Homo sapiens: one gene and its partner. The protein of the gene in region 1 purifies or fractionates together with the protein of each later gene. This does not show direct contact. Each region holds a gene or a part of one and is shown on either strand. Other genes may lie near its edges.

The links. The genes of interacting proteins can lie anywhere in the genome.
Region 2: the proteins of TPH1 (region 1) and RFWD3 purify together in Homo sapiens (affinity purification with mass spectrometry; 2 studies listed by BioGRID and IntAct, with this or other methods). This does not show direct contact.

What each region holds. Positions count from the first base shown.
Region 1 is NC_000011.10:18,039,584-18,043,337, forward strand, and holds part of TPH1 (tryptophan 5-hydroxylase 1), read right to left. Parts: intron 1,206-3,754; 5' UTR 1,180-1,205; coding exon 1,063-1,179; intron 1-1,062. UniProt on the Homo sapiens protein: Oxidizes L-tryptophan to 5-hydroxy-l-tryptophan in the rate-determining step of serotonin biosynthesis.
Region 2 is NC_000016.10:74,660,245-74,663,998, forward strand, and holds part of RFWD3 (E3 ubiquitin-protein ligase RFWD3), read right to left. Parts: exon of another isoform or gene 1,712-3,754; intron 1,210-1,711; exon of another isoform or gene 1,208-1,209; 5' UTR 1,206-1,207; coding exon 688-1,205; intron 1-687. UniProt on the Homo sapiens protein: E3 ubiquitin-protein ligase required for the repair of DNA interstrand cross-links (ICL) in response to DNA damage. Plays a key role in RPA-mediated DNA damage signaling and repair.

The DNA.
Region 1 (3,754 bases):
CCCCCAAGTTCAATGCTGTCAGAATATCTGGTATTTCTGTTTCATGTCACTTTACACATAGTGATTATTCACTTACTGCAGTTGTTTGTTTAATGTTGCCTTCCCCACTAGATTACATACTCTGTGAGGACAGGCACTGTGTTTACTTTGTCCAGCTCCACATCCTTAGTGTCTGGTGTGGTACCTGACACATAGTAAGGACTCAATAAATATTCGTGTTCTGCCTGACTGATCCATATTTTTAAGACAGATTTATGAAATTAGAATTATGGGTCAAAAATATGAACATTTTAAGGCTCATAATACATATTACCAGATAGTTTCCCTACATGGTACACAAATTTATCCTTGTGCCAAAGGTGCATTGGAGGGTAATGTACCTCCAATGCAATGAAGTTCTGACAATAGGAGACACTGTCATTATAGAATCTTTGCTACATGAAAATAATATCATTAAATATACTATGACTATATCATTAAATCTCAAGTATATAATTAATAATATATGATTATATATTGATAAAATTTTAATATTTTATTAAAATAAAATTAAAATTTGCTTCTCTAAAATCTATAAAGTGAATCTTTTCTCCCCCATTTCTCGAAGTAGCTATTTGTATCTCCTCTTCTGTAAATTGTTTGTATCCCTTGTTAGAATTCAGCACTATTTTAGAAATGTAAGTTCTTAACAAATGTTTGTACTCCATCTCTGAAGAGTTTACAATAATTTATATATATAATATATAAAAATTATATATTTATATATTTTATCTATATATAAATATAGATATATATATAGAGAGAAAATCTCACTCTGATACCTAGGCTAGAGTGCAGTGGTGTGATCATAGCTCACTCACTGTAACCCTGGACTCCCGGACTGAAGCAATCCTCCCACCCCAGCCTCCCAGGTAGCTGGAACTACAGGAGTCCACCACCACACCCAGCTAAATTTGTTTTTTTTTAAGAGATAGGGTCTTGCTATGTTGCCCTATATTTTAAATATAGTTTTAGAGATTCATTTCTAGAAGAATTCTGTGCAAAAATACAGAAAATGCTTACCTGAAAGATTTTCAGGGCTTTTATAAGTCCTCCAACTTCATTCTTTAAGGAAAAAATGAGACTTGCTCTTCCCCTTTCTAAGGAATGGTCTTTGTTCTCCTTATTGTCTTCAATCATGATGAATTTGGAGTAATTCTCTAAAACTAAAGTATGAAAACAAAGACTACGGGCTAAAAAAGAAGTTGCACAATGCAGACAATATTTGATAACTAAGGGCTCATTTACTTCTAGGAGCTTCAGTTTCTTAACCTTTTATAAAACCTGGATATGCAGATAAGCTTTGCAAGAATCTAGTGAGACCAAAATAAGATACAACTTTGCCTGACACCTGCCTAGAATAGAATACATGTTAGTAGTTCCCTTTTGTTTTTTTTCTAAACCAATCGCTCTTTTAGGGCATGACTGAAGCCTGCTGGCTTCTTGCAGTCTTCCCAACTATTGTAGCCTAAACTAGTCAGGAAGGCCTACCTCCTCCCCACCTTGCCCACAATCTTAGCACTTCATTATACCAGGTCTCAAATGGTTTCCCCAAATGTTCTATTCGAACATATCTCACCTTCTAACAAGGCAGCAAGCTCCTCCAGAGTGGGGACAAGGCTTTCTATTTATTTTGTAAACTAAAGGCCTGGCCAGCTCTAGATACATATGCACTAGATGGATAACTGCTAGCCAGGAGAATTCTAGTTCTGCTTCTCAGAAGATGAACCAGAGATCTACTTTGGTATCTTCTTAACCACCTATTTACACTGCAAAACAGTGTAAGGAAATATGTGGAATGTGAAGTCAGACATATCTAATCATTGGCCTCATGTTTATCAGTGTATGACCTCGGGCATGCTACTTAACCTTTCTAATATAAAACTAAGTTACCAAACAGCTACCAGAACTCATAACATCCAAAATTCTCACTCGTTTTAAAACATCATAACATGGCGTGCTATTCTGAGATTTTCCTCACGGAAGAAACTAGGATATTTCAGGTACCAAGAAGAGTTAGAGATACATAATTCAAAATTTAACTAACATTTATGAATTCATTGGGTTCAAGTTTCCAAAACTACCAAGATTTTTAAATTATGCCAAATTAGTCTCTAGAACTAAAAACAATTTCTATTTCAAATGCTATAAAACTAAATGGCCAGTTAAACTGAATAATTATGTGGATTTTTCTTTGATTCAAATAATTACTAATGGTAAAACGAATAAAATTTCAACCCAAGCGCATTCACATGTGTGAAGCACCACAGTCAAAGTTAGGGCAGTAAAAATTTAAAAACAAGACAACTTGCCTCCAAATAATTCACACACTTGTTCATGGGGAAGGAGAAAATGGAAGACAGACTTCTCAATAAGTACAAATAAGCAGAAAAGAAGGGACACTGAGATCCCAGCCATGACACCCAAGGAGTACACTCAACCACCCCTCACCTTCCCACCACCCCACCCCTTTGATCAATATCCCATGTGCTTCTAAAGATGACTGAATATAGCTTCTAGCCCATCCATGAGTCTCTGCTGAGAAAGGATTTATGGATGAGAAGCAGGAGATCTTAAGAGATTTTCCACTTCAAAGGAAGTGACCATTTCTTAAGGTAAACTTAAGTATACACAGAAAATTCCAAATTGGTGGCTCTGGGGCTAAAAATTCAGGGATGGCCTCAGATAAGCATTCTCAAAATGTTTTTAGGGATGTGAAAACTTTCAGAAACGTTTCTTACCCATTCAATTACCACTCAAAGATTGACTTTTCTTATCAAACACAGAGTATGGGCGACGTTGTCCTAAAGCGTGAAAATGTAAACAATAAAAGAGATGCAAAATAATATAACAAATTGCTAGTAATAAATCTTTCTGCAAATCCATCTAGGCAAGTTATAATCTTTATATGTATCAACCTCTTTATTTGCAAACTTGGAGGGAGGATAATTAACACCACTCTCATGATTATAAGGAGGATTAAACATATATAAACTTATGAGAATTAAATAGTTATAATTTACATAAAACTCTTAGAACAGTTGCTAACCTACACTAAGTACTCAATAAGTATTATCTCAAGTAATGGGGAATATGTCCCAAATTTTCCAGTTTTCAAAAAAAGAGAAAATGTTCAAGTAATGAAATAGACATTCTAAATACCTCTGGCTAAGAATTTTTCTTGCCCTAGGAATTAGGCATTTTACAAGATGGTTAACATATTTCTTACAATAGCAAACATGTGGAAAAGTTGCTTTATGATATAAAATGTCAGTATTGTTTTGTATCAAGGTGATTTCAGTTTCATTAATTTATTATAAAACCCCTAAAGTGTATTAAATTCCAAATCTCAAGAAAATAATTCAGCAGTTTTTTTGCAAACAAATAGACAAAGACCCCAAAGTAAAATGTACTGAGTTACCCTATAGTTACTGAGTCCTCATGTTTCCTGATACCATCACCATGACATGCAGAAGGAAGAGGATTCTGCAAATATAAGCTATTTCCTGGCCAACCACTAGCTTCATCATGTAAATCAGCTTTAAGAACTGGGAGCAAGGATCAGAGAACAGTAAAGAAAAGTTACCACTGATTTTTTCCAGTCAGTGGTAACACTAACAGAATTCTAGATCTCCTGATAATTTGTCTTTCAACAACCTCTTGGAGCTTGGAATAAAACTCTTCATATAAAACTATATGAGGCCAGCTGCTGCGG
Region 2 (3,754 bases), on another chromosome or scaffold:
GGGCGACAGAGTGAGACTCCATCTCAAAACAAAACAAAACCAAAAACAGACAGGTTTAATTAGTTAGGTGTGGTGGCACGCGCCTGTAATGCCAGGTACTGGGGAAGCTGAGGCAGGAGAATCGCTTGAATCTGGGAGATGGAGGTTGCAGTGAGCAAAGATTGTGCCACGGGAATCCAGCCTGGACGACAGAGTGAGACGCTGTCTCAAAAACAAAAACAAAAAACCAAAAAACGGACAGGGTATAGGCAATTGTTATTCTTCATAATAACCCTGTCAAGACTTGACAGCTAAGCCCTTCAAGAGGCAAGTTCAAACCAAGACTATGAAAGAAAATTAATTAATTGTGCCCCCAGGTGGAATGCCAGTGAATAATGAATTTGGGTGAGTAGAGACTTGCAAGTGAAGAAAGAATTTTTGGTGTACAAGACACAATCTGAACAACAGCCAATCTCTACAGAGATTGCCAACAAACTACCACCTAGTTTTCAAGGCACAACAGTTTAACTTATCCCTTCATTACTTTGTGAAGTAAGGCAAGCACTTTTATTTCCACCTATGAGGAACTGGGGGTCAGAAGTTACCTGACTTGCCAAAAGTCACACTGTCAGTCCTTGAATGGCAGAGCCTCAGTTTCATAATTTCTAGTACAGCAATGATCACAGACTTATCCATATATTTATTTACCTGGCACTGTCTGTCCTCTGAGACCCTCCGGCTCTTGCCCTCCGTGAAGCAGATACCCTCCTTCTTGTTCTCATTGGCCCTACACTGTGGTTTGAAGATGAAGGTCTCAGGAATTCCAGCATGCCATGAAGTCTCTGCAGTCCGCTGATGAAGTTGGTCATTGAATGCAACGAAGATGCTGGGATGGTGTGATTACCATCAGATCCCTGCCTATGTTGTTCTGAAGTTCTTGGATTGATGTTCTCCACAGTGTCTTCTCCCAAGACCTCCACTTCTGTCAGGTCAACAGACAGTTGCGGAGCAGGCTGGAGCAGGGGTGGTGTCGCTTGGCTGCTGATCACCTCAGCAGGAGCTGGCTGGAGGATGGATGGTACCCCCTGGCTGCTGACCACATCAGCAGGAACAGGCTGGAGGAGGGCTGGTCCCCCTTGGCTGCTGGCCATGCCAGCAGGAGCTGGCTGTTGTTCGGCATGATTTAACTGCACCTGAACATCATATTCCATTGCTTCATGAGCCATCACTAGAGAAACAGTATTTGTAAAAAGTATTAATAAAATAGATAAAACATGCTATGTAGGTGACAGAATCATATTTAATCTTTCTGATTTTATGTTTAATATCATTCTTAGCAAGACTGAGAAGCTTCAAGAGAAGATTTTAACTACTTAAGTCAGAAGTGTTTGGTAATGGACTTTCCTCTCTATAACAAGCATTTATAACCAGTTTTCCGGTTTGCCCTTAGAAAACATGAAGTCCTGTGATCATAGTAGTATCTTCCAAAATAGAAAGATCTATAAACCAAGGAGATTAAACTACTGGGTCTAAAAGTAATCTCTCAGACACTTTGCAGTTCTCTCAAGCTGAATATGGACATTCACCAAAATCAAATGCATATAATGCAGTATCTAATTTTAGCAGGCAATATTAATCTTTCACAGCATCAACAGTTACAAGGGATAAATAGAGAAAGGACATTTTTTACACTTGCAAAATTAACTGTTACTAACTCAAAATGGAAACTTACCTAATGTTTCCAAAAAGGCTGAGCAAACTTTATCCTATCCCTTTCATTATTTTTGTTTTCCATCTCTAATTCCATCATGTTAGCGTATTCAACAAATATTTATTAAGCACCTATGTTCTTTTCATGTTTCCTATCTTTAATTCCATTGTATCAGTTTGAAAACTACCACCTAGTTTTTAAACTAAAAAAAAAAATTTTTTTTTGTTATATAGATGAAGGCTTCCTATGTTGCCCAAACTGGTCTTGAATGCCTGGCCTTACCTCCTCATGCATCAGGACAACAGGACTGAGCCACTGTGCCTCCCTACCACCTAGTTTTTAAAGTACATCAGTATAACTTATCCCCTTAATTACTTTGTGAAGTAAGGCACGTGCTTTTATTTTCATCTGACTTATGAGGAAATGGGGGTTCAACTAATAGTTATTAAGCACCTGTTATGCAGACAAGACACCCTAGAGGCAAAAACAGATAAGACCCCATGTATCAGAGTTTAGATTCTAGCAAGTAAGATGTCAATAAACAAATACATGAAAAAAATTATAGATTATGATGTTTGGGGTTGAGGAGACAAAGAGGACCAACTAAGACACAATTGTGAGGGAAGTACTCTTTTAAAGAGTGAAAATTGGGCTGAGGCATGAAGGATTAAAAGCAGCTGGCTATGCAAAGAGCCAAGAAGAGTCTCAGAAGGAAATCAGTGCATAGGTCCCTGATGAGCATGGGTTTCACTGATGAACAGGACACCATTATTAAAGGGCCTATGGGCCTTGGTAAGGAGTTTCTTCTATGTTAGGAATGCACTGTAGGGGTGCAAGAGCATAAGCTAGGTGACCAGTGTAGAGGCTATTGTGGGAGTCCAGACCAGAGGTCAGAGAGACCTAGGCAAGAGTGGTAGCAGTGGAGATGAAAACAAACAGACAGCTTTAAGAATCTTCAGAATGGTCATGCTTCTTTTTTTTTTTTTTTGAGATGGAGTCTCGCTCTGTTGCCCAGGCTGGAGTGCAGTGGCGCGATCTCGGCTCACTGCAAGCTCCGCCTCCCGGGTTCACGCCATTCTCCTGCCTCAGCCTCCCGAGTAGCTGGGATTACAGGTGCCTGCCACCACGCCTGGCTAATTTTTTGTATTTTTAGTACAGCCGGGGTTTCACTGTGTTAGCCAGGATGGTCTCGATCCCCTGACCTGGTGATCTGCCAGCCTCAGCCTCCCAAAGTGCTCGGATTATAGGCATGAGCCACCGCGCCCGGCCAATACTCATGTTTCTTAAAATCATCAAAGCAGATTAAACCACCTGAGGAACAGAATGACAGAAGAGGGCTGAAGACTAAAGTCAGAGACACTACTGTTAAAAGTACAACAGAGTAAAAGAAGCCAGTTAAGGAAGATTATAAAGTAGGAGGAAACATGGGAATGTGGTGTCTTGGAAAAACAATGTTTCAAGGAAGGAACAATTGAGTGTCAAGTGCTACTGGGGGGAAGAACGGCCGCTAGATTTGGCAACATGAGGATGACAGGTGACCTAAAAAAGCAGTTTCCCTGAAGTGGTGGGGTCAGAGGCCAGACTGGTGCAGGCTGAATAAATGGAAGGAATTCTAATAAACATAGTGGACGAAGTACATATATGTATCTTTCTCTCTCCACTCCAGTCATTCCTAAAACCCACGAACATGACCCCCACAACCTGAGACATTTTTTTAAGAAAGGATAAATTAACCAGGACGACACAAATGCAAACAGGGTATGATATGCAAACCAGTTTTTTAAGGCCATAAAGGAGAAACTGATGATTGATGACTGCTTAGCAGAGCCAAAAGATAAAACTCAAAGCCTGCAAAGGGCACAGTGGTTGGGGTGAGGTGTGTTATTGAGAAGCAAGCTGATTCCCACTAAAGGGACTGTAAAAACCAGGTACCACAAAAGGCAATATTGAAAGATGGCGCTAAAAGAGAAGGGCTGGTTAAAAGCCAGTAAAGCAGTTAGCTTGACTCCTACTCAAACACCAGCCAGCTAAAACAAAACACAGAACAAAGCCCTTCTCCCCCTA